Homo sapiens: one gene and its partner. The protein of the gene in region 2 interacts with the protein of the main gene of each other region in a pairwise test. Each region holds a gene or a part of one and is shown on either strand. Other genes may lie near its edges.

What was found. Proteins that work in one complex are often made in the same cells at the same time.
Region 1: the proteins of TACC3 (region 2) and ARHGDIG interact in binary tests that used the Homo sapiens proteins (3 or more experiments, as listed by UniProt).

Annotation. Positions count from the first base shown.
Region 1 is NC_000016.10:276,108-283,513, reverse strand, and holds ARHGDIG (rho GDP-dissociation inhibitor 3), read right to left. Parts: upstream 2,924-7,406; 5' UTR 2,834-2,923; coding exon 2,761-2,833; intron 1,769-2,760; coding exon 1,589-1,768; intron 1,490-1,588; coding exon 1,406-1,489; intron 1,218-1,405; coding exon 1,141-1,217; intron 1,048-1,140; coding exon 984-1,047; intron 900-983; coding exon 700-899; 3' UTR 504-699; downstream 1-503. Other genes in the region: PDIA2 (protein disulfide-isomerase A2 precursor), read right to left, coding at 146-344. UniProt on the Homo sapiens protein: Inhibits GDP/GTP exchange reaction of RhoB. Interacts specifically with the GDP- and GTP-bound forms of post-translationally processed Rhob and Rhog proteins, both of which show a growth-regulated expression in mammalian cells.
Region 2 is NC_000004.12:1,738,506-1,745,521, forward strand, and holds the end of TACC3 (transforming acidic coiled-coil-containing protein 3), read left to right. Parts: exon of another isoform or gene 1-1,193; coding exon of another isoform or gene 1,194-1,196; coding exon 1,197-1,273; exon of another isoform or gene 1,274-1,453; coding exon 1,454-1,497; exon of another isoform or gene 1,498-1,976; coding exon of another isoform or gene 1,977-2,056; exon of another isoform or gene 2,057-2,320; coding exon 2,321-2,481; intron 2,482-4,889; exon of another isoform or gene 4,890-5,032; intron 5,033-6,012; coding exon 6,013-6,119; intron 6,120-6,206; coding exon 6,207-6,327; intron 6,328-6,409; coding exon of another isoform or gene 6,410-6,442; coding exon 6,443-6,508; 3' UTR 6,509-6,666; downstream 6,667-7,016. UniProt on the Homo sapiens protein: Plays a role in the microtubule-dependent coupling of the nucleus and the centrosome. Involved in the processes that regulate centrosome-mediated interkinetic nuclear migration (INM) of neural progenitors.

The DNA.
Region 1 (7,406 bases), on a different chromosome or scaffold from region 2:
GAGCTCCTGGGCACAGTGGGGGCAAGTGCCTGCGGGGAGGCCCCTCTTGGGCACATGCCCTGCATTTGCCGGCAAAGGGTGGGGCCCCCAGGTGGGCTCTGCCGGTCCCCCGCCGGTCCCCAGCCCCACTGGCCCCAGCACTCACAGAATTCCACCAGCAGGGCAGGGTGCTCCCGCAGGGCCAGGCCCAGGGTGTGGCGGCTCAGCACCAAGATCCCATCCTCCTTGGGGATTTCCTCCTCTGGAGGCTCCTCCGAGGGGCTCCTCGCTCCCTGTTCCTGACCCCATGGGCACGAAGCCCTGAGCAGCAGCAGCAGCAGTACAGGCAGAAGCTGGCGGCTCATGGTGCTGCCAGGGCGCGTGGGGCGGGGGCAGATAAGGGGGCCAGAAGCCAAGCAGCAGCTGCCACGTGGCACACAGGCCCAGTCCCAGCAAAGACAAGGCCCATGCGGCCGCCCCCGGCCCCCAGGGGAGGGGAGGCAGAAAGAGACGACACCCAGGGCACCGAGAGAGACAGGGCCATGTTTAATGGGACAGCTCAGGGGACAGCGCCAGGCCAGGGGGTCCCGGGACAGAGCAGGGGCAGCAGGGGCAGCAGGGGCAGCAGGGGAGGGTCTGGTCACTCACGGGGGGTGCTGGGGATGCTTGGGGGTCCCTGTGCAACAACTGAGGGAGGTAGGGGAGACACGGACTGGGGGTTCAGTCCTTCCAGTCCTGGCAGATGCAGAGACCCCACTCCCAGGACAGGTGGTGCGTCCTGTCATCGTCGGTGAAGAGGGACACCACCAGATAGGGGCCCCGCACCAGCGCACCCCTCGGCGCTTCCTCCACCGGAGTCACAAACTCATACTCCTGGGCGCTCGGGCCATAGCTGCCCACCATGTAGACGGTCTTGTCCACTAGGGAGGGCGAGGGCATCAGAGCTGTCCTCTGTCTGCCCCCGCTTCCCCCCCCCGCCCCGTTCCCCCCACCGCTGCCCTCACCGCGCAGGCCCCGGCGGTAGGTGTGGTGCAGACACTTGAGGCCGCTGACAATCTCCCTGTGGACCTGGGAACAGAGGCATTAGGGGTTCCTCTGGGGGCCAGGCCTCTGGCTGTTGCCCCCACCCCCATCCCCTCCGCCCATTGCCCCGGCTCTCACCTTGAAGGAGATCTTCACTCTGTAATCAACACCTTCCTTCAGGACAAACACCTGGTCCTTCAGAACAGCCAGGTCCCCTATTGGGGAAACCTCAGCTAGGGTCGGAACTCCCCTACAGGCTGAGACCTGCTCCAGGAGCCCCCACGTAGGGTGTGGTACCCATGAGGTGTGCGACTGTGATGGCCCAGGGCTCGGAACTCAGGGGTGCAGAAGCGTGCCTGGGAGGGCCCTACCTGTGTTCAGGGTGCAGCATCCTGCGAGTTACCTGTGAGATCCATGACGACGGGCCCCGGAGCCTGTTCCGACAGGAGTGTCAGCCTGGTCACCTGCACATTGGGCAGGCTTGGGTCTGAGGAGAAACTGGAAGTCTGCAGGATGCCCCCCACCCCCACCAGGCTCCTCACCAGCCCCCCAGACCCAGCCCTCCAAGCCTAGACCCCTGCCATACCCACGGCCGGTGGCAGGGGCCCCAGCAGCACCCGCTTGTACTTGGCCAGGCTCCTGTCGTCCGGGTCCAGCTGCCGGATCTCCAAGAGGCTCTTCCTCCCCGGCGCCCGGTACTCGGGCACAGCCTCATCCAACACCTCGTCCACTGCCGGCGGCCCACCCTCCTTGTCAGCCAGGAGGACTGGGGGTGGGGAGGGGCGTGAGCAGCAGCCACTAGCGGACCCTGGCATTCGAGCACCAGGCTGGAGCCCCCTCTGGCCAGCTGTACCTCCCACTATCCAAAGGGACTCAAGGGAAGCCTCTGGGGGCTCAGGGAGAGAGCGAGCAGAGAGAGCAGGGCGGCCTGGGGAGGTGCCGCACCGCACCCAGACCTTCAGGAGGGGCCTCCAGAGACCGCCAGGCCTGCAGCTCCTCTGGCCCAGATGTCCACAAGGGCCCCCTCCCTGACTCGGAGACCAAAGGGCGGGGGAGCGAAGACTTCAGATGAGGGCAGCCCAGGGTCAGGGGCTACCTGCTAGAGAGCAGCGGCCCTCGGCGGCCCCCAAACCTACTGACCCTCTAGGGCCCTCGGCGGCCCCCAAACCTACTGACCCTCTAGGGCCCTCGGCGGCCCCCCAAGCCTACTGACCCTCTAGGGCCCTCCACCACCCTGCTCTGGACTGGGGTCTCTGAACACTTTCCCACAGTCTAGGAGTTCCTCCCCATGGTGCTCGGGTGCCGGGGGCGGCTGTCTCCAAATCCCTGGGCTCAGGCTCTGCGCCGCCTCCCATGGCGCCCCGGGCTGGTGGCCTCCTGAAGCCCCTCTCCCTGGTGCCCTGGGCAGGGGTTTCTGAGTCCCTGCCCACTTCGCTCCCGTCTTCTCGGGGATCACCACACGCCCTACAGAGCCTGAGCCCCAGCCCCAGCCCCACCCAAGACAGAGGGGCTCCAGGCGGCGGTGTCCAGGGGGAGAGGGTCCCAGCGCCGCCGCTTCCCAAGCCGACCCGTCCGCACCTGGTCCCTTCCCCACAGGGCTGGAGCCTGGATGAAGTCCCCCACCCCTGCCAGACCCCAGCCGGGGGGTCGGCGCCGCGAGGTCCCCATGCGCGCCCCCAAAGTTGCCGCGGGGGAGGGGCTACTCCCCGCCCGGGGCTGAGACCAGCCGAGCCCCCCGCCCCTGCCCGGCCCGCTCACCTCGGGCGCACAGCGCCAGCCGGAGCAGCTCCAGCAGCTGCGCCCCCAGCTCGCACGCGTCCAGGCCCAGCATGGCGGCGCGCGGCCCGGGCGCCGCGGAGCCGCCGAGGAGCCGCCGCCCGCCCCGCCGCCGCCCCGCTCGGCGCTCAGCCCCGGCGCGACTGCGGTGAGCTCATCCCGGCCGGGAGCGCCCCCCGCGCCCAGCCGCGCCCGGCAGAGAGCCCCCAGCCGCTCCGGACCCCGCGCAGCCCCGCAGAGACGCGCGTGTCGCCCGCACGGGCCGGCACCCGGGTCGCCCCCGCCGGCGTGCCAGGACCCCGCACAGAAGCGCCCGGACGCGGACGCACGCAGCCGCGGTCACGATCCCCGCCGCCCGCCCGGCCCGTGCCCGGCTCTGGCCAGCAGGGCTGCCCCACCCCCACGGCGCGGCGGGAGCCCGAGGGGGTCTCCTGGGAAACCCTCTGCGGGGCGCCGTGGCGCAGGTGCGCCCCCATCCCCAGGGTCTCATTATCCGCGGCCACACCTGGGGCCGGACCGCGCGCCCCCTTCCCCTCCCCCGCTCCTGAGGGAGCTTCTGTCTGGGCCGAGGGGGACTCCGGGGGCCTGCCCAGCCTTGGGGTGAGGGGCTGGCCCAACACCCTACAGGTTCACGGTCATCAGTAGGGCGGGACCACAGTGGGCGCGGGTCGCACGCACACCCAGGAGGCAACAAGGGCCCCTCAAAGGCTTAGCGACCTGGCTGCGCTGTGTGAGTTCCCAAGAGGGGGTGTCCCTGCAGGGCTCTTGGAAACCCAGTTACCGAGCCCCCTGTCCTCAGGGAGAGGACACTGACAAGGGGGCGGAGTACAGAGACCGGAGCACAGAGGGGGCTTCTGATATTGACACCTAAACTGAGACCTGTGGGTGGGTGGGGGGGATGGGACCCGGCAGGGGACAGGGGTGAGCAGGCCCTGGCTGGGACAGCTGGACCAAAGGCCTGCGTCTGGATAAGGGAGAAGGGGTCCGAACACCAGCCTGAGTCCCTTTCTTAGACACCCCTGGCCGGTTCCAGGGACACCAGAAATTAGACCCGCCCTTGCCAAAGAGCTCCTCAATTGAGAGAAGACCACCTTGGGTGCTAGGGGGCATTGGGGTTTGGGTGGGGACTGTCTCCCTTGCCCCCCAACTGCCCACAACCTTTCCAGGGCAGGATCCTATGAACTTGTGCCCAGGCCCCCCTAGAGCGCCACCTCTGCTGACCCTTCGCTGCAGGGAGCGGGGGCTGTTAGGACACTTGTCCCCAGGCCCACAGCTCCAGCTCCTGCAGCTGTTACCAGATAGAAGGTCTTGGAGGTGAGTTGTCCAGGTTCTTGGTGGGTTGAACAAAGAATTGAACAAAACGCACAAAGTAACAAAAGAACAACGAAACACAAGGAAACAAAACTGAGTCAGAAGAACGGAGTAAGGAAAGCACAGATTTAACGGAAGGCAATTCACAGAGTGGGAGTGGGCTGGAGCAAGTAGCTCCAGAGCCTCTGTAATTAGGATTTTTATTAAGCAAAGAAACCTGACCACAGCCCTTGTGCCCTTTAGAGGCCTCCAATTGGCTACACCCTATGAAGGATTGGCCCGAGACCAATCAGAGGTGAAGTGGAAATTTCTGTCTTGTTATCACAGCAGCCAGGATGTGGCTTGTGAGCTGCCCAATCCTGCCTAGAACTGGCTGCACCTGCTGTTCCGTTTCTTATGCCCAACCCTTGGCTACCCTCATTCCCTATTCTGCCTCACAGCTACCATGGGTGCCCACCCCTGCAGACAGGGCAGCCAGACCTGGGCCACCTCACCCCACCTGGGTGTGGGGCATGGGAGGGCTCACTGGGATCCAAGCGAGATGGTACCCTGGAGTAAGAGACCCCACAAGCCCCCTGCCCCAGCTCATGCTGAACGTGGCCTCTCCGGCAATGGAAATGGACTCAGACCACTATGTTAGGGGCTCCCAGCCCAAGGCCAACCGCCCACCCTGCCCAGCCCCTAGCACCCTCTGAGTGGGTAAGGATGGGGAGAGGTACTCTGCCTCCAAGAAAGCAGAAATAGACCAGATGCGGTGGTACACATCTGTAGTCCCAGCTACTCAGGACGCTGGGGTGGGAGAATCACTTGAGCTCAGGAGTTTGAGGCTGCAATGAGTTTATGATTGCACCACTGCACTCCAGCCTGGGTGACAGAATGAGACTGCCATCTCTCAAAAAATAAATACATAGCCAGGTGCCATGGCTCATGCCTGTAATCCCAACATTTGGGAGGCTGAGGCAGGAGGATCACTTGAGGCCAGGAGTTCAAGATCAGCCAGCCTAGGCAACACAGCAAGAAACTGAGGCCCTTACAGACAGGGATAAGCGAGGGGCTACGTGTATATTTATCTACAAAAATAAAAATGAAATTAAAAAAAAAATTAGTGGCCAGGTGCGGTGGCTCATGCCTGTAATCCCAGCACTTTGGGAGGCCAAGGCAGGTGGATCACTTGAGGTCAGGAAGTTTGATACCAGCCTGGCCAACACGGTGAAACCCCATCTCTACTAAAAATGCAAAAAAAAAAACAAAAAAAAAAATTAGCCGGGCATGGTGGCGCATGCCTCTGATCCCACCTACTTGGGAGCTGAGGCAAGAGAATCGCTTGAACCCAGGAGGCGGAGGTTGCAGTGACCCGAGATTGCACCATTGCACTCCAGCCTAGGCAACAAGAGTGAAACTCCATCTCAAAATAAATAAATAAATAATTTAAAAAATAAAGAAAGCAAGCAGAAATAGATGCATTTGCACCTTTTAAAAATGGTGCTGAGGCTGGGCTCGGTGGCTCAGGCCTGTAATCCCAGCACTTCGGGAGGCCGAGGTGGGCAGATCGCCTAAGGTCAGGAGTTCAAGACCAGCCTGGCCAACAAGGTGAAATGCTGTCTCTACTAAAAATACAAAAATTAGCCAAGCGTGGTGGCGGGGGCCTGTAATCTCAGCTACTCAGGAGGCTGAGGCAGGAGAATTGCTTGAATCTGGGAGGAGGAGGTTGCAGTGAGACGAGATTGCGCCATTGCACTCCAGCCTGACAGAGCAAGACTCAGTCTCAAAAAAAAAAAAAAAAAAAAGATGCTGGCTGGGCATGCCTTTAATCCCAGCACGCTGGGAAGCTGAGGCAGGAGGATGGACTGAGCCCAGGAGTTTGTGACCACCTTGGGCAACATAGTGAGACCTCGACTTAGTTTTTAAAAAATGATCCGACCGGGTGTGGTGGCTCACACCTGTCATCCCAGAACTTTGGGAGGCCAAGGCAGGTGGATCACCTGAAGTCAGGAGTTTGAGACCAGCCTGGCCAACATGGTGAAACCCCATCTCTACTAAACATACCAAAATCGGCCAGGCACAGTGGCTCACACCTATAAGCCTAGCACTTTGGGAGGCCAAGGCAGGCACATCACCTGAGGTCAGGAGTTCGAAACCAGCCTGGCCAACGTGGTGAATCCCTATCTCTACTAAAAATACAAAAATTAGCTGGGTGTGGTGGCGCGTGCCTGTAATCCCAGCTACCTAGGAGGCTGAGACAGGAGAATCGCTGGAACCCAGGAGGCGGAGGCTGCAGTGAGCCAAGACCGCATCACTGCACTCCAGCTTGGGTGACACAGTGAGACTCCGTCTCAAAAACAAAAACAAAAATAAAAATTAGCCAGGCGTGGTGGTGGGAGCCTGTAATCCCAGCTACTCAGGAGGCTGAGGCATGAGAATTGCTTGAATTCAGGAGGCGGAGGTTGCAGTGAGCCGAGACTGCCCGGTGGGGCCTGAAGATCCTGGGCCTGGCTCGGGGTGCACCTGGGGGACAGGCATAGCCATTGGAGGAGGGAGAGAGCTGGGAGTGGAGTGGGGCCTGAAGCCTGGCGGCCGCCGGTGACACTAAGTGGGTGTGTGTTGAGGGCCTCCCTGCAGTAAAGCTCCTCTCCAACAGTGTCAGGGTGCCCTGGGCAGGGTTTCTGCTCATTCCCCAGCGGGCCACCCAGGCCTGCGTGGAGCTGAGGGAAGTGAGCCATGAGCCATCAGCCACTTTCCCGGAAGGACCCCGGATAAGGGACCCACAGCAGGAGATGGGGACAGCTGGGTCACACTCTGCAGCAGCCACGTGCTCCACTGACAGCCGGCATCCGGCCCATGTAGAAAGCTGACCCAATCTCTCATGCACCCTGCCCCTAACCAGCCACCGTCACAGCAATGTATGCAGTCTTGGCCACAAGCATCGCAGGACACAAGGCCTCGGGCAGTCATACCGCTGGCCCTGGCCCCGGCCCCACAGCCAGGCCTCTAGTCCCTGTATGTCCTCAGGGCCCCACACATAGGACCGGGGTTACAGTGGGCCCTAAACCACGTTTCCCACCCCAGTTCACTCTCCCTACGGGTCTCCTCTACTCACGGAACCCCTCTCCCTCTCTGAACCCCCATCCCCTCCGCTGCCCTCCCTGAGACCCTCCCCATAGTAACCCCCCCTCGCTGATGAGCCCCTCTGCCTCTCCCAGAGACCACCCCCTGCTCCAGCTGAGCTCCATCCCCTCACATCCCCCCTCGGCCCCCGGCCCACACCCTCCCCCGTCCCACTTCGCCTTCACCCACGAGGGCCTCAGCGTCCCGGGACC
Region 2 (7,016 bases):
GGCAGGTGGCCCCTGCATGTAACTTATGTTAGAAATGCACAATGCTTGTTCTCTGGTGCCACAAAGAAATAGTGCTCGAACATTAATTTTCTCAGCAAGGCAGTTTTTACTTTCTGCAGAAAGGGTGCCCCTCGCAGATGGAGCAATGGCAAGAGCACACCTGAACAAGGGAGGGGAAGGGGTTCTTATTCCTGACACAGGTAGCCCTACTGCTGTGTTGTTCCCCTGTTGGCTAAGGTTGGACCACACAGTCTAAGCCAATTCCAATTGGCTATTTTAAAGAGGGCAGGGTAAGAGTCAGAGTGGTGGGGTGAGTAGTTTGACGGGAAGGACGGTTAGGAACAGGTAACTCAAGGTGACTTAGGTCAGAGCAGGTGACCGGGATGAGTCAGGATGGAGCAGGTGACCAGGGAACAGATGTGAACTACTGATTAGGACTGGCGGGAAAATTGTTTACTGAAACTAGAAGCAAGGGGCGAAGAGAACCAGGAATTTTAAATGGAGAATCAAAGAAGAGATCTGGCCGGGTGCAGTGGGTCACGCCTGTAATCCCAGTACTTTGGGAGGCCGAGGTGGGCGGATCACGAGGTCAAGAGATGGAGACCATCCTGGCTAACACGGTGAAACCCTGTCTCTACTAAAAAATACAAAAATTAGCCGGGCGTGGTGGTGGGCACCTGTAGTCCCACCTACTCGGGAGGCCGAAGCAAGACAATGGCTTGAACCCGGGAGGCGGAGCTTGCAGCAAGCAGAGATCACGTGACTGCACTCCAGCCTGGGCGACAGAGTGAGACTCTTGTCTCAAAAAAAAAAAAAGAGATCTGAACATACTGACTTACTGATTCTTTGAAGACAAACTTGGAGTTCACTATATTTAACACTTAGGACCCCTAGTATCTGCCACTGGGCTGCGGGGGCAGCTGCAGGGACACACACCTGTTGGGTGCCTGCTGGTTCCACCCAGGAGCACAGCCAGCAGCCTCATGCCTCCTGCCCCCTGGCAGTCGGGTGCACGTGGAGCAGGTGGCCTTGGCCTCGACAGGGTTCCCAGGGTCCCACTGGAAGCCCCACATGGAACTGTGCCTCTGGGACATTGCTCCAGGGACCTCGGGTGCGGGCTGGCCCCATCCTGTGGGGAGGTCCTGGGAGGGTCAGTCTGGCCCGCCTGCCTGCTGACTTGGGTGTGGCCTGAGCAGGTAAAGGCGACACAGGAGGAGAACCGGGAGCTGAGGAGCAGGTGTGAGGAGCTCCACGGGAAGAACCTGGAACTGGGGTAAGGAGGCCCCGTCTCCTGTCCTCCCCGTCCCCATCCCCCTCGCCATCCTTGTCCCCATCCCCCTCGCCATCCTTGTCCCCATCCCCCTCGCCATCCCTGTCCCCGTCCCCATCCCCACCTGGCCTGGGACCGCTGGGCACCCGAGGCAATGGCTGTGTGTCTGTTCTCCTCCCACAGGAAGATCATGGACAGGTTCGAAGAGGTTGTGTACCAGGCCATGGGTGAGTGCCCGGGCCACCGAGGCCACGTGCCTCCACGAGGGGCTGCCTATGCCCCACCCTGGCCCTGCCCTGCACCCTGCCTAGGACCCCACCCTCCTGAGGCCCCTTTTCCTAACACACGAGTCCCTTCAACATGGGCCCGGCCGTGGAAGCACTGAGGCGAGTTGCGGGGAAGCTGGTGGTAGTGAGGCTGGTGGCTCCCACGGAGCCAGGGCTTGGCAGGCCCCACAGTTGTGCAGATGCTGAGCTAGCAGTGGGGCTGTGGTGGGAGCAGAGTCTGTCCCGCCGTGGCCTACCCCACTCCACCCTGCCCTCGCCGTGCGGCTATGTCTAGCAGCAGCCTCTGTAGGTGTCTGGCAGGACGGGAACACCAGGCCTCATCTGGCCTCCCAAAAGCTTGGGCTCCTGGAGGTGCTACTGTGGGGATCTGTCTTAGGCTGAGTGTCAGCCGGCGGCAGGTGACCGCCTGGCCCTTGCAGTCCCTCCAGGACCACCACGAAGCACGACGCACATCCTGGAGCTCGCCATACCGGCTCCCAGGCCTCACCCTAGGCTCTAGGGTGTTGGGCGCCGCCTCTTCAGGGACCTCTGGCCCAGGCTCCAGTTCCCTGCGGATCTGATGTGGAGGAAACAGCTGTTTCCTGGGCTTTGCATCCGGCCTAGAAGATCCTGGGTGGAGGGACCCATCACCCTCCGAGGCTCACACCCACTGCCCACCTCTCCTCCTGGCGCTCGAGTCCCTTGCCTCATTCCTTGGGCTGTCTCTGGCACCCATCGTTTCGGTTGCCTCCTCATCCTGAACGTTTGCTTTTCTTTTCTCAAGAGGAAGTTCAGAAGCAGAAGGAACTTTCCAAAGCTGAAATCCAGAAAGTTCTAAAAGAAAAAGACCAACTTACCACAGATCTGAACTCCATGGAGAAGTCCTTCTCCGACCTCTTCAAGCGTTTTGAGAAACAGAAAGAGGTGATCGAGGGCTACCGCAAGGTATGTCTCCGCCACCCTGGTGTCCTCACCTCGGAGGCTGATGGACTCATGGTCCAAGCCAGCGGGGCTACAAGCTGCTGTCTTTGCACCTTGGTCCTTGGCCAAGCCTCCCCTTGCCACGGGGGCATGGGATGACCTGTGAACGAGACAGGGTGCAGGAGTCACAGCATAGCTGGTTTGCGAGGCAGCTGAGGGCGGCAGGAGGCAGAGTGAGCAGGGAGGCCATCTGAGCCGTCCGCTGTTGTGTGACAGACGACTCGGCTATGATCAGGCATCTGTGAGATTTGAGACAGCGCTGGTGCACCGGGGCCTGGGGCACCTCGGAAAGGTGTCTGGGCTGTCCGAGCGCTTGGGTCCCAAGGGTTGGGGACCCAGGGCATGCAGTATCCAAGGCGGGAGGCCCACTGAAAGGTGGTCACGGCTGTGCAAGGCCACCCTGGTGTCCTCCTGGCCACGGGACTCTGAGCGCCCCCCACCTTCTGTGCTGGGCAAGGCCCACATGCTTGCTGGAAGGAGGGATGTCTGGGCCATCCATCTGCCCAGAGCAGGCCTGGAAGGTGCCTGCGAGGCCGCCAGAGGGTTCTGCCCACAGCAGCAATGTTGGAGCGGAGGTGCTCAACGCCTCCTGTGGAGGAGCTGGACCTGCAGGTGCAGCTGGAAGAGGGGCTGTCACTGTTGGTGCAAGGGGGTTGGGGACACCAGATGGGTCCCCTGGGAGTCAGACTAAACTGGAAAAGCGGCCCTTGCAGGGCCTGCTGAGCCACACCTCATCTGAGTCCTGAAGTCAGGTGGGTGTCAGTGGCTGGGGCCCAGCTGCCTAACAGAAGCAAGCCTGAATACTCTAGGGAAGAAGGTATCTTATGCTTTAAATTGCTGCTGCAGTTTTAAATTAGTGTCTGGCACAGAATAACCAAGTGTGAAAGGAACAGGAAACATGAGTGAAAATCAGACCCGTTATTAGAGTGAGGCATGGTGATGTACACCTGTGGTCCCAGCTACTAGGGAGGCTGAGGTGGGAGGATCATTTGAGCCCGGGAGGTCGAAGCTGCAGTGAGCCATGATTGTATCACTGCACCCCCAGCCTGGGCAATAGACCAAGACCCCCATCTCTAAAATTAAAAAACAAAAACAAAAACTGTTGATAGACCCACAGGAGCCCCAGACGCTGGAGTTGGCACCGGCAGGTGGTGCCTCAGGTCTGCAGGGAGCAGATGGGAAGGGCCCTGTGGCAGCAGAGTGCCCACCGGCAGCAGAGTACAGCAGTCTGGCCCAGCACAGACGCTTGGAGAGGCAGGACTCTTCACACGGTGCTGCTGGCTTGAGGACACAGCGGCTTTGCTGACCTTCCCTCAGGTTGGGCTGTGGTGTGAGCAGCTGCCTTGGCCTCGCCTCTCCCCGGGGCAGGCCTGTGCCTCAGCTCCCACTGGCCACCTCCCTACTTCCTCATGGAGGCTCCTTTGCACATCTAATCCCATCTTGGACGACCCAGTGCAGACTTTAAAGTAATTGTCTTCTGTATTCAGAAGAGTATTGCTTCAATAGAGACCTTGAAACTAGAAAAGAATCCCCTTCGGGAGACCGAGACGGGTGGATCACTTGAGGTCAGGAGTTCGAGACCAGCCTGGGTTACATGATGAAACTCCGTCTCCTAAAAATACAAAAATTAGCTGGGCAGGGTGGCATTTGCCTGTAGTCCCAGCTACTCAGGAGGCTGAGGTAGGAGAATCACTTGAACCCAGGAAGTAGAGGTTGCAGTGAGCCAAGATCGTGCCACTGCACTCCAGCCTGGGCGACAGAGTGAGACTCCATCTCAAAAAAAAAAAATACAAAAATTAGTTAGGCATGGTGGTGTGCACCTATAGTCCCAGCTACTCAGGAAACTGAGACAGAAAATCATTTGAACCTGGGAGACAGAGGTTGCAGTGAGCCGATATGGCACCATTGCACTCCAGCCTGGGCGACAGAGCGAGACTCTCTCAGAAAACAAAAAATACAGAAAAACTAGGCCGGCTTATGCCTGTAATCCCAGCACTTTGGGAGGCCAAGGCGGGAGGATCATGAGGTCAGGAGTTCAAGACCATTCTGGCCAACATGGTGAAACCCTTTCTGTACTAAAAATACAAAAATTAGCTGGGCATGGTGGCAGGCACCTGTAGTCCCAGCTACTTGGGAGGCTGAGGCAGGAGAATCAATCAGGAGGTGGAGGTTGCAATGAGCCAAGATCGCGCCATCACACTATGGCCTGGCGATAGAGCGAGACTCCGTCTCAAAAAAAAAAAAAAAAAAGCCTGGGCACAGTGGCTCACGCCTGTAATCCCAGCACTTTGGGAGGCCGAGGCGGGTGGATCACGAGATCAGGAGTTTGAGACCAGCCTGACCAACATGGTGAAACCCTGTCTCTTCTAAAGATACAAAAATTAGCCGGGCATGGTGGCACGCACCTGTAGTCCCAGCTACTTGTGAGGCTGAGGCAGGAGAATCGCTTGAATCCGGGAGGCGGAGGTTGCAGTGAGCCGAGATCATGCCACTTCACTCCAGCCTGAGTGACAGAGTGAGTCTCCGTCTAAAAAAAAAAAACAGAAACTAGAAAAGAACCAAATGGAAATTTCTAACAGGTACACAGTTAACAACATTAACAATTCAAAGGGTACAGGTCAGATGAGGGAAGCAGAGGCTGAGTTGGGAACCAGTGTGTGGACGGCAGCCCCCAGAGCCAGAGGGAGAGACGCCGCTGTGGCGGGAGGCTTGACCTGTGCACACGTGAGAGCTTCCGGATGCCGCCTCCCGGACAGACGCTGTTGGGAATTTTCCACAGCAGAGAAACACAGTGCTGTGGGTTTAAGGGAGGCGTGACCTCCGCAGGACATCAGGGGCTGCATGCTGGGTAGGGGCTCAGGGAGAGGCTGCAGTGCTGAGGGTGCTTCTGGGATACAGGGCTGCGACAGAGGAGTGAGGATGGCTGGGCTGTGAGGCCGCTGGGGGCACTGCAGGAAGAAGGCAGGTAGGCTGAGCCTTCCCAAGCAGAGGCCACTCGGGGACCCAGGAACCCCTCAGTTAGGGCTTCTCAGTCACTGAGCGGAAGGTGCCCCCAGAGGGGGCAGCAGCCTGTGAGGAGCAGGCGTGTCTGGGTAACCATGTGGCTCCTGCTGGCCTCCCCTGCCTGTCCCCAAAGCACAGGGCTCAGCTCCAGAGGGAGACGGGCTGGGCTGTCAGTGGTCCCAGGTGCATCCCACTTTCCAGCAGCACTTGGTGCCAGCAGAGGCTGCAGGTGTGGCAGGAGGGGGCCCAGCCGTGAGGGCACCAGGTTCAGGCCCGGCATCTCAGGGTGGAGAGCCAGGGCTGTCCTGAACCTCCAGAGGGGGTGAGCTGGGAACTTGTGTGAAGGGGCTTTTTCCAAAAGGAAAACGGGAGCTACTGGCTCACGGCTGATGCCCCAGACAGCCTCGAGGATCTGCAGGTCCCCAGACACCAAGCCTGGGTGCTCTCCAGCAGACGGCGTGGTACCCACAGCTAATGCCTGCCCCTTCCTAGAACGAAGAGTCACTGAAGAAGTGCGTGGAGGATTACCTGGCAAGGATCACCCAGGAGGGCCAGAGGTACCAAGCCCTGAAGGCCCACGCGGAGGAGAAGCTGCAGCTGTGAGTGCTGGGCGAGGCCCCACCCTGGAGGGAGAATCTGAGCACCTGGGCCCCAGCTCAGCCTCTGCCCCGCCCCTACCCCTCCAGGGCAAACGAGGAGATCGCCCAGGTCCGGAGCAAGGCCCAGGCGGAAGCGTTGGCCCTCCAGGCCAGCCTGAGGAAGGAGCAGATGCGCATCCAGTCGCTGGAGAAGACAGTGGAGCAGAAGGTGGGTGCGGGAAGCCCAGCTCAAGGGGCCGTCTGGCAGCACCTTCTAGAAGGCCCTTGGGCCTGCTGCTCCCTCCAAGCAGGGAGAAGCCCCGCAACTCATCTTCCTCCTCCAGACTAAAGAGAACGAGGAGCTGACCAGGATCTGCGACGACCTCATCTCCAAGATGGAGAAGATCTGACCTCCACGGAGCCGCTGTCCCCGCCCCCCTGCTCCCGTCTGTCTGTCCTGTCTGATTCTCTTAGGTGTCATGTTCTTTTTTCTGTCTTGTCTTCAACTTTTTTAAAAACTAGATTGCTTTGAAAACATGACTCAATAAAAGTTTCCTTTCAATTTAAACACTGAAGCCGCTCTGGTCTTGATGAAGCAAAGGTTTCCCAGCTCTAGCCTGAGGCTGAGCCGACCCGCAGGTGCCCTCCCTTCCCCTCAGAGCTGGCCACTTGGTCCCTGCCTACCCCAGGCTCAGGCCACCCTGCCGAGGGGCAGGGACAGCCAGTGGATAGAGGAGGCTCAGGCCTGCCCAGTCTGCCCCGGCCACCTCGGGTTGGCTACATGGTCCTGGCCTCAGGTACACACATCAAAGTCCAAATGGACTCGTTTTTTTGTTTGTTTTTTTGTTTTTTGTTTTTTTTGAGACAGTCTCTCACCCACGCTGGAGTGCAGTGGCGTGAACTCGGCTCACTGTAAGC